Linked DNA regions of Homo sapiens: region 2 is linked to region 1. Evidence: fine-mapped expression QTL. Tissue or cell type: fibroblasts. Region 1 holds a variant in brackets; the other region holds the start of a gene. All regions are shown on one strand. Distances are from middle to middle.

Region 1 (7,135 bases):
ATCCTACCCGAATTTGTGCTCCATGTGATCTCTTGTCCCTTGGCCACAGCAAGGTGGGCGTGGCTCAGAAGATGCTCTGCCGCCTGTTCTTCCCTCGTCCTGGAGAATGGAGAAGAGGTGGGGCTGCAGGGAGGAGGCTGGGCTGACGGGTACCCCAGGTCAGCAGGGACAGTCGCTGTCCCCCAGAGCTGCTCTGACAGAGCAAGCAAGGGCATGCAAACAGGAGCCGGTCTGACCTGGTGTCAAATCCCATCTCTGCTACTTACTAGCTGCATGAACTTGTGACTTAACCTCCCAGAGCCTCAGTTTCATTGACTATGAAATGGGGAATATTAATAGTACTAGCTTCAAGGGGTATTTTAAGGATTAAAGAAGACGATGCATGGAAAGCATTTGTCAATGTCCAAGGCCATTGACTGTTCTAGGAACAAAGTACCGTTCTCCCAGGATGGAATCTGATTAGAGAGCTCAGGGTTTGCAGAGAGAATGCACCAGAGACAGCATGCCTCTTTGCCAGGGCTACTGTCAAATGCAATGTCCTGTCTGGGGTGGAGGGTTGAGGAGGGAAGAGCTGGACGAGGAAGTCTAGGCAGGAGAAACCAACCCCTTCTCTGCTCCCCAAAGAGTCCAAAGGGAAGCCAGTGGTGGGGGGACCATGGGAGTCCCCACTGGGGAGGGGTCGCCTGCTCTGGCTTCCACTAACAAGGGGAGGGGTCCAGGAGAGCACAAGCCCCTACCTGGCTGCTGGAAGGCCAAGCCTCGGTAGCCTGGGTCCTTCTGGAGCTGGATCTCCTTCAGGGAGAAGATGGAGGCAGCTGGGGGAGAGAAGTGCATAGTCTGGAGAGGGCTGCGTGGAGCTGGCCTCCAGTAAGGACTGGCCCAGAAGGACCAACTGAGCCCTCGAGGCAGCGTCTCATTTCCACTGTTTGCCCCCTCAATTTGGAATGAGAACCCCAGCAGGGGAGGCAAGGTGCCCGGGGCTGCTCTGCTGGGGCTGGGGCCTCTGGCCTCTTTGTTCTGGTTCTTCTGCCCACACTCACCAACCCCTTTCCTTGGTTCTGGGTGGCCCTGCTCCCGGACCCCCAGTACTCACTGTCTTCAAGCTGGTGCACACGCTCTCCCAGAGACCGGAAGTAGGAGTGACTCAGGGCAGCCTCTGCTGACATGCGACTCTTGGATTCATACTGAAAGGCACAGGGTGGGGCTATTGGGCCCGGCTGGGGGGCTGCAAACCCTCTGGGCAGCAGGACTCCAGTGCTGGTTAGAGCACCAAGGTGGGTGAGGCTTGAGGCTAACAGGAGAAGCCCCAGGTCAGCCTCCAGCCCCTACCACAAACCCAACCTCAGGCCATCTCAAGACTCAGGGGAAGGCTCCTCGGTCTCCAGCCACCAGGAAAAACCAGAAATGAAACTTCAGGAGAGTGACCTTCTCTTGGGATAGAAATACAGATGCAAACCAACCATGATCAGATGGAGAACATCCGTAACAGGAAGCGTAGTGCCGATAACAACCCTTCATCGTGTGCCTTACAAGACAGGCACCACACTAAGTGTGTCCCGTCATCTCAATGTATCCTCACGGCCATCTTATAAAATAGGTATTAATCCCACTTTGCAGCTGAGGAAACTGAGGCATGGAGGAGCTCTGTAACTTGCCCAGAGCTACACAGCTAAGTAACGGGTTTGGGCTCGCAGTGCACAGACTCCAGAGGATGTGTATGGAGGCCACCCCTTGGCCTTGGGGGTGGAGAGTACAGGGGAGATGTTTCAAAGACGTGTAAGCACACGAGCCACAGAAGTTGGGGCGTAGGCCCGGCATGGGGCACAGGGACCTGGCTCTTTGGCTGCCTCTCCCTGGGCCCCGCCGGGAGGACACTCACCAGGAGCAGGCTGCTCAGGAGGTGGATGCCATCCGTATCCAACCTGCAAGGAGAAGGCGCGGACACAGGCTGTGCCTGATTGGGGATGGGAGAGCCAGGGCCGCAGCAGGAGGGGCGGCGGGCGCAGGGGCTACCTGGGCGCGTGGTTGATGAGCGGCTGCGGGAGGTAGCAGGGGAAGCTGTAGGTGCGGAACTCAGAGAAGGCGGTCACGCCGGGCCACGTCTCTTCTGTGGGGGTCCCTGGGGAGACGAGAGAGGGTGGGGAGGGCCTGCGTGAGGCCCAGGGCCAAGGCCGACTTGAAAGGGATGCAATGTATGAGGTGGGAGCAAAGATGGCCGAGGCCACAG[G/C]GGGTCCCCGCCCGGGAGAGAGGCGGCCGAGCCGCTCCTCCCCGTCCCGCTCCGCGCCTGGGCTGGAGGAGTTCCGGCGCCCCCTGGTGGTGAGAGGGACGGAGCAGCGGGAGACTGACCGAGGAGGCGAAAGATGAGGTGCAGCTCCTCCTTGACTGTGGAGCCCGGGAAGAGGGGCCTCCCTGTGGCCATCTCGTAGTGGATGCAGCCCACGCCCCTGCGAGGAGCAAGGGGTAGGGTCGGCATCAGGCAGGGGCGGCCGCCCTTCCTAGGGCTGCTCCACCAGGGCACCAATGACGACCTGCCACAGGCGGCTGCAGGGATCGTGGCTCTGGCGGCGGAGGGGTGGCCCAGGGCAGTGGAGGCTCCTAGAACTGCCCAGCCCCCACTACAGCCCCTCTCTGGGGGGCTTCCCTGGGCTCGGGAAAGCTGCGACTTTCACTCTGTGAGGAAAGTCCCCTTTCACTCTGTGAGGTTTGGGTCTGTGCAGCCAGCGCCCATGTGGCAATTCTCTCAGCAGTGTTGTCTCAAACTCTCTCCACTGTGTGCCCCACTGGAAGAGAAGTACATAAATCCATTCTCCTGGGGAACCTTGGGGCGGAGTCACAGCAGCCATTCATAACCACCGGCGGCTTGGCTTGCAATTTGGGCTGATTTTTCATTTTACACCAAATCATACACTTGTTCATTTTAACATAAAAATAGTACTTCTCTTTCAAAATTTTCACTGGGACTGATGCTTGGGGAAGATTCATCGTATTTACTATAGGGGCCCTCCTGGACCCTCTGGGTCTCTGGTAACCCCCCACAGGCCTCTGGGGGAGGATTTCAAATGCACAGGCTTGGGGGTCTATTTAAGCCAGGGAAACCCTAACCTATTATATTTCAGACCTAATTTTTTAACATCCATTTCAGCAGGATGTCACAAGGCTTTTAGGCAAAGGAAGTTAGGCAGTTCTTCCCCGAGGCCCTTGGGGAAGCAAAGGAGAGTCTGGAGGTGTGGCCAGGCCTGTCCTCCCCTCCTCGGTCCCCACAGTGCTCACTCACCACATATCAATGGGGGTGGAGTACTCTGTGGATCCCAGCAGCACATCGGGGGGCCTGTACCACAGGGTCACCACCTCATTGGAGTAAGTCTTTGTGGGCACTGACTTGGCCCTGGCCAGTCCTGGGGGCAGACATGTCACTGGACCTCTGTCCACAGGTGCTGTGGGGTTGACTGCTATGCCCTCCCCCACTGCACCCACACCCTGAGGCACCCCAGTAGCGTCAGACCCCCACCCTAGCCCCAGCCTCACCAAAGTCGGCCAGCTTCAGCTCCCCCCTCTCGTTGATGAGCAGGTTCTGGGGCTTCAGGTCCCGGTGCAGGATCTTGCGGTGGTGACAGTAGGCGAGGCCCCGGAGCAGCTGGAACATGAAAATCTGGGGGAGGGGGAAGAGAAATGTGGGGTGGAAGGTGGCCCTGAGCCTCTGCTCCAAGGCTGGGACCAGGATGGGGGCAGGGGCTTGGCAGTGAGGTCAGCACAAGCCCCTCATTCTCCTGCACACCCTGCAGCCCCCATCCTGGACCCCACCCACACCAGGGAATCCCATCCAGAGGGGAGGACAGCAGGGGTGCAGAGGACGCAGTGAGTGTGGGGGAGGCCAGCGAAGTCTCAGTCAGGAGCACGGGGGTCAGGATGCCCGCCTATGTGGAGACATATGTGCTTGATCCCTTTTTTTTTTTTTTTTCTTTTAGAGTCAGGGTTTTACTCTGTCACCCAGGCTGGAGTGCAGTGGTGTGATCATGGCTCACTGCAGCCTCAACCTCCCGGGCTCAAGTGGCCCTCCTGCCTCAGCCTCTCAAGCAGCTGGGACTATGGGTGCACGCTACTGTGCCCGGCTAATTTTTCAATTTTTAGTAGAGATGAGGTCTTGCCATGTTGCCCAGGCTGGTCTCAAACTCCTGGGCTCAAGCCATCTTCCTGCCTTGGCCTCCCAGTGCTGGGATTACAGGCGTGGGCCACCATGCCCAGCCTTGATTCTTTAACAAACACCAGGAGAGGTCATTCATAACCCCGAGCTTCCCCAGAAGCCTCCCTGCATTTTGGCAGGTAGCTCACACTCCCATTTGACAGACTGGGAAACTGATGTTCAGAGTTGAGAGTGGGTTTTATACCAACAGCTAGACAGTGGCAGACAGTGTGTGTCTGTTCTTGGGGTAAAGCGCTCAACCCAGTTCCTGGACTCGTTGATGGCATTGCCCTCTCCCTCTTTCCTACGTGGGAAGGTCTGAGCCACCTCAGCAGCCGGATCCCTGGTGGTGAGAGTGGGTCCCCACACTGGGCTTCTGGACAGGTGGCTGCCAAGATGGGGGGACCCTGCCCCCGAGGCCTCACCTTGACGTTGTGCATGCTCATGAGGTTCCCACAGTGGTCCAGATACTGCTTCAGGTCACTGTCCTGGAACACAGAGCGTGGCTCAGTCCTGCCCCACGCTGACCCCTGGCCAGAAGCCCAGACACAGGCTGAGGAGAGGAAGCCCCTCCCTGGGAAGGGCCCACGCCCACTAGTGGGACAGGTCCCTGGCTCGAGCCACCCGTAAGCCTGAGCTCTTGGCCCACTCCTGCACGGGAGCATCTGAAAATCTGATTCCAGAACAAGGCCTGGGTCGCCCTCATCCCACTACTCCCACTCCCTCAGCTTCCCACTCCCCTACCCACACCCCGTTTCCACCACAAGAGGGAGAGGCGGCCAGCCCCAGCCGGACTCTCACCAGGTACTCAAACACCAGGGTGAGGGACCGATCTGTGTGGATGAGGTCATGCAGGGTCACAATATTGGCGTGCTTCAGGTTCTTCAGCAGAGACACTGTGAGGAGACAGATCCACCTGGGTCCCTAGGACCCCATGTGTCCCCATACCCTCTTTTCTTGGGGTCAGCGCCAGGAGTCCCATTCCAGCAATGATCCTCTACCCCCAGCTCCCACAAGGGTGCAGGCTGGTGAACCCCTCCTCCTGAAGCCCCCAGGGGAGCGTGGGAGCCTAGGATGCTGTACCCTCTCGGATGGCAGTGCAGGGCGCTCCCTCCTCGTGCTCCAGCCGGATCTCTTTCAGGGCCACAAGGTTCTCCGTCAGTTTGCTGCGCCCTTTGAAGACTGTGGCATAGGTGCCCTGGGATGGAGGGCCACAGCGGCCCCAGGCGCATTCAGGTGCTGCTGGCCTCTGTCCAGTGCCTCCCCATTTGTGCCTCTGCCTGGGCTACGACTGGGGCCTGAGTGCCCTTCCTCCCTTTACTGACATGCTGTTTCCTCCAAAGCCTACTTCCTCCAGGAAGCATCCCTAATGACTCCCCAGTCGGAGTGAATCCGTCCTTCCTCTAAGCCCCAGCACGCCGCGTGCCCGTCTATGATAACACCAGGTTTTTTCTTCCTTATACGATGCTGATGTTTACACAGAGGTCACCTCTTTGGGCTCCTGGAGGGAAAGGGCTGTGTGTTCCCTCTCTCTATAAACCTTCACCCACCCCAGGCCTCTGCACAGTGACAACAAAAATAGCTAAGTGACACAGCACTTCCTATGTGCCAGGCATTGTCTGTGTGCCGTACATAAGCTGATTACAGTAACCTGCCCAATCCTCACAATAACCCTATGTGATAGGACAATTACTGTCTCATTGGACAGAGGAAGAAACTGAGGCACACAGAGAGGTCATGTAACTTGCCAAAGGTCACAGAGCTAGTAAATGGTGGAGCTAGGTTTTGAACCCAGGCAAGAAGGACTTGCAGAAAAAAAAAAGACTGGATTCTGCCCAGGGCCATGGCTACTCTATCCTCACGCCCTCCTTCAGGATCTGAGCTCACTTCAATCCCTGCCAAAGCCTGGGCCAGAGCGCACAGCCAAGACTGTGCACCTCTATGGGGCAGGGGCCAGGAGAGGGCCAACCAGAGAGGGCCGACCAGAGAGGGCCGACTAGGGAGGTCTGCCCCTCCTCCAAGCCATCCTGCCTGGCTATTCGGAGAAGACCAAACCCAGCGTCTTACCTCTCCCAGTTTGTCCAGTTTCACGTATGTTTCCAGTTTCCCAAAGCCAATGTCTGACTGAGAGGGAGAGACATAGAATGCCGTGAGCTTGAAGCCCTTAGCAGCTCCACAGACATGACGCCTCCCCCAACTCCAGCCTCTGGGAGGGAAGGGATGAGACTCCATGGTGGAAGGGGCTCCTTTTCCCTTTATCCCTGTGATAAAGGACAGAGCTCGTGAAAGTGTGAGTTTCTTCCTCCCAGGACAGCCAAGAGTGTAGAGCCCAGAGCTGTGGCACCTGGGATTGTTGCACATCTTGACTACCTGTGTCTCCGACTGAGACCACGAGCTCCTCCAGAGTGAGTGCTGCCTTTTTTCCCATTGTACCTTGAGTGTCCAGTTCAGAATCCACCTCTCTGACTGTGTCTCTCATCAGCGCACTTCTAGCTCAGGTGTATCCAACCCTTAACAAGACGGATTCCTGGACCCCCTAGCCGGAGAGGCTGATTCTATAGGTGTCTGGAGGTAGAGTCTGTGTTTTGTAAGATGTCCCAAACAGCTCTGATAGGCAGTTAGGACTGGAAGGCACATGCCAGCTGGCCTATTGATCTTAACCATGTGGAGACCGTGGGACCCACTGTGGGCTTAGAGTCCCATTCCAGCCCAAGTGAGACCCATCTAGGAAATGGATGTTGATGTAGGAGGACGAGCTAGTTGAATGCACTCAAGCCAGCAGGTGGCACCAGAGGCCCAGGAATCTTCCTCGAAATCCCATCTAGGCCTCAGCTGGGACTGATATGCCCATGCTGGGGAGGGCATATCACCCCACCTTGTGTCCTCTGACCCTCTTGGGACTCACCAGGGAGGCCCGGCGGGACATGCGGCTGAGCGGCTTGGGCAGATCTGGGC
Region 2 (10,976 bases), 24 kb after region 1:
CTGATGTTTGCAGGGACCCTGATTTCAGAAAAAAATATCAAGTGGGGCCAAAGGCACTGAGAACTACCAAATGTAGCCCATTAACTCTGCCACCACCCCTTGATAATGACATCAGGTAAAGCAAAGAGCTACTAGGTGGACATTATCTCACTGGAGTCCTCGCAATCACATGAGATAATAGTATTATCCTCCTATTTTATAAATGAGGAAACTGAAACCTGGGTGAGCAAATTACTTAACCTAAGGCAACCAGTTACTGAGTGGAAGAGGCAGAATCTGAACTGACCCCAAAGTCCATAAATTGCCTCCACCCATGGTGGACAGGAGACATACACTCAACATATAAATAATGATGAGTGCACCAGCCAGCCATTATTGGGTCATCTTGTCTATCCCGACTCCACCATTTCTAGGGAAGACTTTTATTTAATGGTGGGGGTAGGGAGGCTCAGAGGGTGGGACCATTATCAAGAGCTCCAGGAAAGAGGATCTCATCATAGTCCTTTCAAAAGTTCTGGCCCATGTCTCCCAGAGCAAGGTGTCCAGTCTCTTCAGGGTTACTCATGCTGTCAGGGAGCTTTGCTTCAAGACCCGTTTTTTGTTTTGTTTTGTTTTGTTTCTCGCCCAGGCTGGAGTGCAGTGGTGCGACCTCGGCTCACTGCAACCTCCACCTCCTGGGTTCAAGCGATCCTCCTACCTCAGCCTCCCGAGTAGCTGGGATTACAGGCACACGCCACCATGCCTAGCTAATTTTTGTATTTTTAGGAGAAACAGGGTTTCATCATGTTGGCCAGGCTGGTCTCAAACTCCTGGCCTCAAGTGATCCACCCGCCTTGGCCTTCCAAAGTGCTGGGATTACAGGCATGAGCCACCACACCCGGCCTAAGACCCTTTTCAATTTTTTTTTTGACAAGTTCTTGTTCTGTTGCCCAGGCTGGAGTGCAGTGATGCAATCATGGATCACTGCAGCCTCAACCTCCTAGGCTCAAGCGATCCTCCCCTCTCAGCCTCCCGAGTAGCTGGGACTACAGGCGCGTGCCACCACACCTGGCTAATTTTTGTATTTTTTTAGAGATGGGGTCTTGCCATGTTGCCCAGTCTGGTTTCGACCTCCTGGGCTCAAGCAATCCGCCCACCTCCCTTTTCAGTTTAAAACCAAACCTCACACTTGCCTCACTACCCCTCCTCCTCTGCAGATGTAGCTGTGGAGATTCTAGGAGCAGATGGGCTCTCTTTCAGACAGGAGGTCTGGCGGAGATGCGCCCACGGCTTTTCCTCTTCCAGACTTGCTGCTGAACCACTGGCCAGCTCCAGCCAGGCCCAGCTACCAGCTCTGTAGTGATCCTGGATCCCAGACCCTTGGCCTGAGCTGTTGTGAGCCCAGCCTGTGTGTGCATGTGCATGCAGCTGTGTGTGTGTAAGCAGCTGTGGGAGCCAGGACAAGATTAACCTTGGTCTGCTCCCACCCCCTGGATGTGGGAAAGTGCCCACTCAGCAGGGAATGCCTGGAGGGCAAAGGTGAAAAGTCCAGGGAAGGGGACGTAAGGGGTTATGGTGGGACACAGAGCCGAGGAAGAGAAATGTGACTTATTGCCAAAGGTGGGCTAATCAGGTGGGCCTGGAACCAGGCCAGCCACTCACCCTGAACAACAGAGCAGAACAGGGACTGCAATTAATTAAGTACCAGGGGAGGGTCCTCCTACCTCAGGGAAAGAAGGCGCTGCCAGAGGGCCCTCAGAGCAAGAGACTGCTGCCTCTCCAGCTCCCAGTGCCTGCCTCATTCATAACTGCCAGAAGGTAGGGCCCCCACAGCACAGATTCCTGGCCCCTCCTGGAAGATTTCCATCCAACCCATTCCCCTACCACCACCACCATTCTCTTACACAGAGCCCTCCTCCCTAACCTGGAAGAGCAGTAAAGATTCTGTCTAACTAAGGGCTTGGCCTGATGGGGCTGGGAAAATCTACCTTGGTCTCTAGACCAGCCCTGGTGCAATCACCAGGAAATTCCCTTTCCAAACAAGCACCACCAACCACTATAGCTACCAGTTATTTAGTCTCTGCTACATGCCAGGCACTGTGCATTATTTTTTTTTTTTTTTTTTTTTTTTTTTTTTGAGACGGAGTCTCGCTCTGTCGCCCAGGCTGGAGTACAGCGGTGCAATCTCGGCTCACTACAACCTCCGCCTCCCGGGTTCACGCCATTCTCCTGCCTCAGCCTCCCGAGTAGCTACAGGCACCTGCCACCACGCCTGACTAATTTTGTGCTTTTTTTTTTTTTTCAGTAGAGATGGGGTTTCACCATGTTAGCCAGGATGGTCTCGATCTCCTGACCTCGTGATCCGTCCACCTCGGCCTCCCAAAGTGCTGGGATTACAGGCGTGAGCCACCGCACCCAGCCTAAATCTTATAACAGCCCTCTATTATGATCCTCATTTTACAGATGAGGGAACGGATGCTGGGAGAAATTCACGAGTGTGCTAGTGAGGGGAAGGTCACATAGCTACTATATGCTGGAGCTGGATTCCACCAAGGCCAGAAGTTTGCCCTCCCCTTTAGTTCTCAAGCTCAGTTAGAGAAGAACAGAAGGAATCAGAGGACAGGTAGATGGAGATGCTGGACAAAAGTCCCAACAGGGTGATCCCAGAAAGTAGAGGCTTGGTTAGGGTAGGAACCGGGAAGAGTCAAGCCGGGCTCTGCCCTACAGTGTAGGACGCATTCCCGAGTGCGGGACGGCCCAAGTAGGCAGAGGACAGAGTCCGAGTCTGTAGAGGAAGCAAATGCACCCTGAAAGGCAGCTCCATGTCCTCTAGACCTGAGCGGGGGTTTGCAGGGCTGGCAACCTGATCCCACGAGATCTCAGACCAAGAACCTATTTGCTCCTCAGATCTGGTGCCCTCTCTCCTGTGCCCCATGGAGAAGCCTGGCTCTGCCTAGTGCAGGACAGACAGATGGGAGCCTCAATATTTGGAGCATCACCCCCATTCTTTCTTCTCCTGAGGACTGACGCAGACCAGAGAACTCCAGAGTGGGCCGGAACCTCCCCACAATGGGGCAGGGGTTAACAGCAGGGGCTTGGGGTCAGACGGAAGTGGGCTGGATCCCACCTCTGTGTGACCTTGGAAAAGTTGGTCTCTCAGAGACTCAGTTTCTTCACCTGTAAAATGGGGATGATAATAATACCTACTTCATAAAGTTGTGACGCACTGCTTGGCGCACAGTAGATATTCAACAAATGGTGGCCACTAAGGCTTGTCTACTCTGCCTCTGGCACCCCCGATAAGTTTGGGAAGAACTTCTTCTGGCACGCGTGGAGAGCTTCTTCCATTCTCCTGGCAGGGTATGGGGAGAGTCCTGGGGACCCAGTGGGGAGAGTCCTGGGAACCCAATGGTCAGGTACACCCCAGATTAAGGGTGGGGGAGGGGTCAGCCCCACAGCCTCCTCAGCTGCACAAGAGGTGGCTGGGAAAGGGTAACCCGAGATAGCAGCTTTGCTGTGGCAAGGTGACCCTCTCTCTGGAACGCCTTCAGGATGCAAACCCGGACCTGGAGCCAGTGTCGCCCTGTACTCCACCGACCCTCAGCACCCTCAGCACCGTTTTCCCAGGCCCCTCCCAAGGCCAGGCTAAAGGCAGGGGATCTCTGAGGACGTGCCAGTCCACCAGGCGCTCCAGGCATCCTCTCAGGCCCGTGTCCAGGAATGTGCTGCATGCCCATGCCCGGGTGGGGAATGCCACGCGAACATGCCGAAGCTCACTGGGTGCTGACACAGGAGGGGCAAGCCGGTGGTGTTAGTGAGTCACAGGGCCCAGGCTACAGCTGGGGAACTGCCGAGGGCTGGGCTAGGGGTGGGGAAGAAGGGGAGACAGTAGCAGATAGCGCGGAAGAGGTTCCAGGGCCTCTCACTCCCACAGTGTCAATCCTCCCACCCCGACTGCCGGGAGGTGCCCAGAGAGAATGAAGAGAGGCAGGGCTGGTGCCTAGGAGGGTGCTGACCCTGCAGCACAGAAAACCCCTCACTGTTTCTGCAGCCCAACTCCCACCCAGCACAAGGTCTGCAGACACCTTCAGGGAATCCCCGCCCCCCACAGGGCGAAAACAGAGGCCTCCAGTCCAGACCCGATTTTGGATTTCAGATTCCTGATGGTGTCCCTCAACTACAGCAGAATCCTCAAGGCACATCTCCTTAGCCCAACAGGTCACCGCCCACTCCCCCCGGCCCCACCCAGCCTCCTTTCCCTCTGCTGCATTAACCCTCTGTCGCCTGTTGATGAGGGGTGGAGGGGGGCACTGCCCCTTTGGTCTTCCGGGGTGGAAAGAGAGAAGCAGCAGCATTCCCCAGACCCCTGCCTCCCCCAGAACTGGGACCTGCAGGGCTTCACGTGTCCTTCCACGTTCTTCCCAGGGCTCCGGCCTCCCACCCCCTGCCTGCCGCTCTGGAAAGTTCACCAGAGCCCAGGAAGCCCTTCAAGGCAGCGATGTGGCCCCACACTCTCGGGTCCTTTGGTCCCTGGAGACTCCTGACCCTTGCCCTTCCCAGAATGAAGGGAGCTTAGAAAGCGCCTGGTTCCGGACTGGGTGGAAAACTTTGCTTTGTAGGGTTCAGACGGGAGCCCAGGGGCCAAAGTGATCCCAGATGGAGACTCCCTAAGGGGGCGCGGGGTCTGAGATTGCAAAATAACCCTCCCTCTCAAGCACCTGGAACTTACGAGTGGCCTTTCGAGGGCACCCCCCACCCCTCAACACACAACACAGTATCACACAGATCACGCCTCGTGATCTCTGCTCTCCCCTCGCCGCTCCGGTATTTCCCTCCAACCTCTCGCCTCAGGGCAAAAGCAAAACTGCGCCTTTAAGAGCCGTTCCGCTTACCTTTGCTCCTTATACCCGGCGCCGCGGTGCCCGCTCCTCCGACCTCCCCCTTCCTCCCAGGCGCACCGCCCGCGGGACTCACAGCGCGTGTCCTGGGGGCCGCGGTGCGCCCGCTCCCTCCCGGGCACGGGGCAGCTTCCCCTGCTCCGGAAAGGTGAGCAGTTCCCCAGAGAAGCTGCAACCTGAGCTGGCCGAGGAGGAGGTAGAAGGGGAGGGGAAGGGAGGGAGTGGAGGAAGGTGGGGAAGAGGAGGGAGGAGGAGGAGGAGGAGGAGGAGGAAGGAAAATGCCCGGCCCCCGCCAGAGTTTTTCACATGTACAAGTTGACTCCGCCCCCGGCCCTCCCGCCCTGCCCACAGCCGCTACCAATCCCCAGGGCTCCCTCTGCCCGGGTGCCCACCCCTTTCTCCCACTCTGGGAACCAGGGTCCAAGTGCCTCTTCCTGTTTCGTTTCTAAAACCGGCCCTGAGAGCCTTGGCTAGGGGATGAGGCCTTCTGGACTGGATCACCCCAGGACACCAAGGCGCCAGGGGTACACTGAGAGTGCCTGCCTGTCTCTAAAAGCGGTGCTCCTACCTCTCCTAGGTACCTCCCTGTACCTGGCGCCCTAGGAACGAATGTGCATGGACAGATTTTGGTGGTCATTTTCTTGACAATAGTAGCCCTCGGGCTCCCCTTCTACCCTATCCAGTGGGACTTGTCACTTACCTTTCCGGACAAAGTTCCCACCTCTCCAGGACCTGAATGAAGCCCTTGTTACCAGCCATCATTCACATTTCCCTCCCCGAAGGATAATTCAACTTGTCCTTTTGGAATTAAACTCCACAGGATATTTGAGAATCATCCAAGAAGGGTTACAGAATGGCTAGTTCAGCTAGTGGCACTCTCATTTTACAGAAGGGGAAACTGAGGCCCAGCAAAGCAATTGAACTGGCCTAAAGTGCCACAAGAGTTCATGGCGAGCCATGATTAGAACTCAGGCCAATGGCCATTGCACCCACATCATCTGACTTCAAGGATCAAAAAAAAAAACAAAACAAAAATCTGGGGATGGGGGTGAAGGGCACAGTGCCCCACCGCCAGGCCCCTCTCATCTCTGCTTCCTCCTGAGGGCTGTGAGGAGAGGAGGTGTGCCTTGGCTCTATGGCACCTCATCAAGGCAGTCTGTGTCCCCTGCCCTACCAGAGGGCTTGGCTGCTGCAGTCTGGGGTCTCCCACAGGGAAAGTCTCCTTAGGAGGGGGTGCTCCACAGTGTACATGTGCTTCTACCTGAACCCTTTCCCTGGGGACTGTGAGTTGTTGAGAATAGAACAGTTTCCTTCTGGAAGACATGGGCCTGAGGTCCCACTGTCAGCTGGAGACAGGAGAATGAAGGAAGACACTGGGCCCATGCATGAAAGTGACCTGTGGGTAGTTGACATCTCACAGAGGGCCTCCCAACTCTTTTTTTTTTTTTTACCTCGCTTTCTCTGCCAAGGCATGCAGATTTCCTGGGCACAGCACTTCCTAAAAATGAAACTGCCAAGTGTTGTCGGGGTGCATGGATCCAGAGCCTTTAGGTGTGCAGCAACCTCCTGGCTCTGTAGTCCAGTGGATGGTGAGAAGCCTGGGGAGCAGGAGGCCATAAAGAGGTTTGGAAGGGGCAGGGAGGGAAAGGGAGAAGGACTATGGCCAAGGAACTGTTTACTGGCGGATTAGAGAGAGTGGGGCCAAAGGGTAGAATTTCAAGGAACTAGGGGGGTGAAGTCAAGAGGTCTCCACAAACACTTTCTCAACATCTCTTATGTGCCAAATGATAGCCAGGGCTCTGGGCACATAAGATGAGTATAACCCAGTCCCTGCCTTCAAGAAGCTCTTGGTGTAATGCGGCAGGGAAGCAAACAGTTAGGATGCTATAGGAGGAGGCTTAGTGTTACGGATGCCTGGGAGGAGCTATTCTGCTTGAGGTGAGGGTTACAGGATGAGGGGACAAGAGAGAGGAGGAAGGATTTTCCCTGTTTTTTCCAGGAGGGGTAATCCCTTGTGCAGAGTGCAGGGGTGACAGAATATGGACCCACAGTTCCATGAGGTCAGAACTTAAAGTCTGGGGTGGAGGTGACACTGTAGAGGCAGGCAGGTGCTGGGTCCTGAAGACCCCCAACGTGGAGGCTGATCCTAGTGGAAAATGAGAATGAGCTTAGACCACACAGCGGCAGCAGGGAGGAGAGGAGGGAACTGATTTGAGAGATAGGTAGGAGACAGGGTCATGGAGCCTTGTGACTATTGGATTCTAGAAGATAAGGGAGCCAACAGTGTCAAGATTAGAAGCACTGATGTGATAGGCTGAGTGGGACCTTGGAGCTTCTTAAGTGAGCCTTGATTCCCAGCACCTCCTTAGATTGCTCTGTGAACTTGGGCAAGCGAACTAAGCTTTCTGAGGCCATCTGTAGAACAAAGTTGCTAAAATCAATCTTGTATGGTTGTTGTACATATTAGGGTAATGTATGCTAAGGGCCTGGCATAGGACTTGGCTCATAATGGAGAACTCAATAGATAGTAAATATAATTACCATCATTCATGCATTCAACAAACATTTATTGAACACCTGCTATGTGACAAGGACTATACTGGATCCTTGCATTGGATAGATGATTTTAAGTCTCAGTTCCTATTCTCATGTAGTTCACTGTTCAGGTGGAGAAAGATATGCAGAGGCAGTCACCTACCAAGGCAATATGGGCTGAGCAGAGGAAGAAGCCCTTAACTCTGCCCAAGAGAATTTGGGACAGCTCCACAGAGGAGAGATGACAGCTGAAATGATGTAGGGCCAGCCACCTGCTCAGAGCCTGTCACATCACCCCCTGCCCCACCACCACCACATGGGATTGCTTCAGAATCTCTGAAAGCTTCAGTTTTGAAGCATCGTCTTGGTTCTCAGGGTTGAAGGAAGAGGATGAACTGCAGGTGGGCATCTATATGGAGCCCAGAGAATGGCACAACAAGCTTTGGCCACCCCAGGAAAGGGCAAGTGCAGATGGGAGGTGGGAGGGGGGAACCAGATAAGAGTGACCCTGGGCAGGGCTTACTAGCTGGATAGGGAGTCCATGATACCCAGTCATACACATCAGTGGCCTGTGTATGTGTGCTCTTTGGGTCAGCCTAATTTTTCTGCTTCTCATCTGTACCATTTCAAAAATTCCCTCTGAACCCCTTGGTGTCCCCTGCCCTCCGATGCCAACTTTCTTTCTGTGCATCTTGCAATAAGCCAAACACAGTAGAAGCAGCACTACCTAGGACTTCCACTAAGGAGGGGCTCCTTCCCTGCTGCCTTACCAAGCAATACTTTGAGCTTTAAAGCCATGTAAACTGTGTGACCTTGGGCAGTTACTGACATATCTGACTTCCTTTCCTGTCCATAACATGGAGATGGTAATAGTCCCTCTCTCATGGGGCTGTTGTGAGGTTTCAATAGGATGTAAACTTGGCACCCAATCAATGCTGTTTCTCTTTTCTGCAGCCCATTAACTCCCTCCTTGCAGAGGGACAGACAACAGACCCTCAGCTGGGGGTTTCCCTGGCACCCCAGCCCCTGGGGCCCATCCCCTGTGGGTCCTGCAGCCCCCTTCCCCTCTGCTAGTCTAATGGATCTGTGGCATCCCCGGGAGGCCCTGGTCACCCTAGCCATGTAGCAGTGTAATGCTGGCAGGCCTGAGCAGCATGACAATGGTGGCCCCAGCAGCAGCTCAGCCCACTGCCCACTCTGCTCCTGTCTCCTCCTCGCTGCCAGTGACATGCCACTGCTCTGCAGATAGGACAGGCGTCCCTGGGTGCCTGAGGGCTGAGCAGGGAAGCTGGAAACAGCTCTCCCTCGCAGACTGTGTGGGCAGTGCATTTGAATAGCATCTGAAAAACCAAAGTTCAAGCCCGCCCCACTTTCCCCTGGGAGGCACAGCATCCAGACAGGGAGAGTTCAGCCAACAGAGAATCTCTTTTCTGCACATTGTCAGGGGCTCCCTTCCCCTCTGGCCCTATATCCGAGCAGGCACAGTCTCTGAAAGCACTGCAGGGACATTTGGGAGGCCGGAGACTTGACTCCGCCCCTAAGGTGCAGAAATCACTTTGTTTCTCTGGGCCTCTGTTTTCCTCTATAGCAAAAGGGGAATAGTGTGAATACCTATCTTTCAGGATGGGAGAACTAAATGCAAAGGTGACTGTGAAAGTGCTTTGCACACTGTAGAACGACCTGCATGTGTATGAGATCATTAGTGTTTGTCCAGAGGGCCCTTTTTAGGGTTCCAGGAATCAAGTAAAGACATGAGAAATGAGAAGCTAAGTGAGAACAGAGAAACTCACCTCAACAGCCTGCCCTTGGCAGGCAGGAGGGAGATTGGCAGCAGAGACCTGAAGATGGACTGACCCATTATGGCCTAGCTAGTTAGAGGTCTGTGAGTCATTGGGACAGCAGGACTTGGCTAGACTGAGCCAATTCTTACTCCTCCTCTGGCTAAACCTAGGCCATTGTTTTCCAGTGATTTATGAGAAGTGGGGATGATTAGGAGAAAAATATCATTTACCTGTAGCAGTGTGATTCCAGCAGAGAGCCTGGGACTTTCTGCTTTATCACTTCACCAAGTGTCATATCCTCCCTTCGCTATTTGTGGTGAAAGTACAGGCATGTGTGCATTTATGCATGTGTTTACACATGTGCATGCACATGCACGCACACACACACACCATTCTAGACTTCAGATGAGGCAACAGCTGCATCCCCAGAGGGTTCTAGGACAGGGTGGACCCATAAATAGAGTCAGCCAATCACAGACCAGTTGACCCTAGCAACTATCAAACCAATTAGAACCCCACCACTACATCCAGCGGTGCCTTCCAAACTTACACACACACACACACACACACACACCCCACCCCCTTCAGGTTGATGCATTGCCATGACAACAGAATCACCACACAAAGCTGGTGTAAATGGGAAAGTGGTCCTTAGGAACAAGACTAGAAGAGTCTTTGGGGTGAGGCTGCAGGCCACACTGGCTGGGGTGGGCCACTGAGAGGACCCGTATGCAGGGTGGGAGAGGAGAGACAGCTGGTTTACCTGGGCTTTCTAAGCCCATTCTTTACCCCTGGGTCTCTGTTTGCTCACCTAGAGAATGGGGTCAAAGACTCCTACTTGGATTATAGTGAAATGTAATGAAATTATTTCTCAACTAATAGATAGGGATAGGAACCGTAGATTTTCTTTTCAGGAAACCTTAAGAATTTTGAGACTTTTGGACCAAGAGAGTTGATTGATCCCCAGGAAGACCTAAAACCAAACCCTAAAACCCAGCTCATGAGTTCATTGGACAGTTGGATCTTAGTTCAGTTTGAAAGTAGTTACTCAATATCTGCCATGGGCCAAGCACAGGTGCTGATTTCAGCTGTAGCCAGGTAGCCCTTGAGGAGCCAGTTGAACATCTTGGTGAAGACTTTTAGAAATGCTCCAGAGGCCTGTTGGATGGGCCTGGAGACAAGTGCTCTGGAGGTGGCTGACCGGGAAAGACCTTGCTCAGGGCCAAGGAAGAAGGCCATGGTTTGAACCCGCAGGCCCCACTGGCCCACTGGCCTTTAGCTTCCAGGCCCCACACCCCTCCTTCAGACAGATGCCAGAGAGGCCTTAACCTTAGCCACTGGCCAATCTGCCAGTGGCTCCTCCTCTGCCCAGTTGCTTCCAGTAGCTCCCCAACAGGAGGCCTTTGAGTCCCCAACCCCTCTTTCAGAATCTGATGAAATCTGAGGAATCAAAACACATATGCACAACATTTTCTGTTCATTTTCATGAGCTATGGGCCTCCTTGTGCTCATTCACAGACTCCCTTATGGCATATGGATCCCCTGCCTCCCTCGTCAGCTCATCCTGATTTTCTCCCTCTCTTGTTGTGTCCAGCCACATCAAACTATGAGTACTTCTCTTGTACACACCACTATGTTTCACTGCTTCATGCCTTGGCACATGTTCCCATCTATAGGAGAGGTTCCCTCCTTCACCACTTACCTAGTAAACTCCTATTCATTCTTCAAAATCCAGCTCAAGAGTCACTGCCTCCTTGACACACACAGGTTCAGTGTTGTCTAC

Alleles and levels. Positions count from the first base shown, and alleles are read on the strand shown. Sizes are in standard deviations (SD) of each study's normalised expression.
For the expression in fibroblasts of the gene that starts at base 5,081 in region 2, allele G in region 1 goes with a lower level than allele C (large effect, 1.0 SD a copy in GTEx).

What was found. PIP is the estimated chance that this variant, and not a neighbour inherited with it, causes the effect.
Region 2: it holds the start of CDK18, and the variant in region 1 is fine-mapped to the expression of CDK18 in fibroblasts (GTEx, PIP above 0.99).

Annotation. Positions count from the first base shown.
Region 1 is chr1:205,524,308-205,531,442 of GRCh38, reverse strand. It overlaps CDK18 (cyclin dependent kinase 18), which reads right to left. Exons shown (of 16, transcript NM_212502.3): 4 at 7,086-7,135; 5 at 6,248-6,304; 6 at 5,264-5,378; 7 at 4,982-5,076; 8 at 4,606-4,668; 9 at 3,526-3,649; 10 at 3,275-3,395; 11 at 2,347-2,444; 12 at 2,014-2,119; 13 at 1,880-1,922; 14 at 1,094-1,184; 15 at 738-815; 16 at 1-99. The coding sequence ends at 65. Among named protein-coding and RNA genes, the nearest start is that of CDK18, 23 kb to the right of the region's middle. RefSeq lists a silencer at 2,191-2,310. The variant G/C (reference allele first, on the strand shown) is at 2,228.
Region 2 is chr1:205,498,774-205,509,749 of GRCh38, reverse strand. It overlaps CDK18 (cyclin dependent kinase 18), which reads right to left and starts at 5,081. Exons shown (of 16, transcript NM_212502.3): 1 at 4,954-5,081. RefSeq lists an enhancer at 2,504-3,157.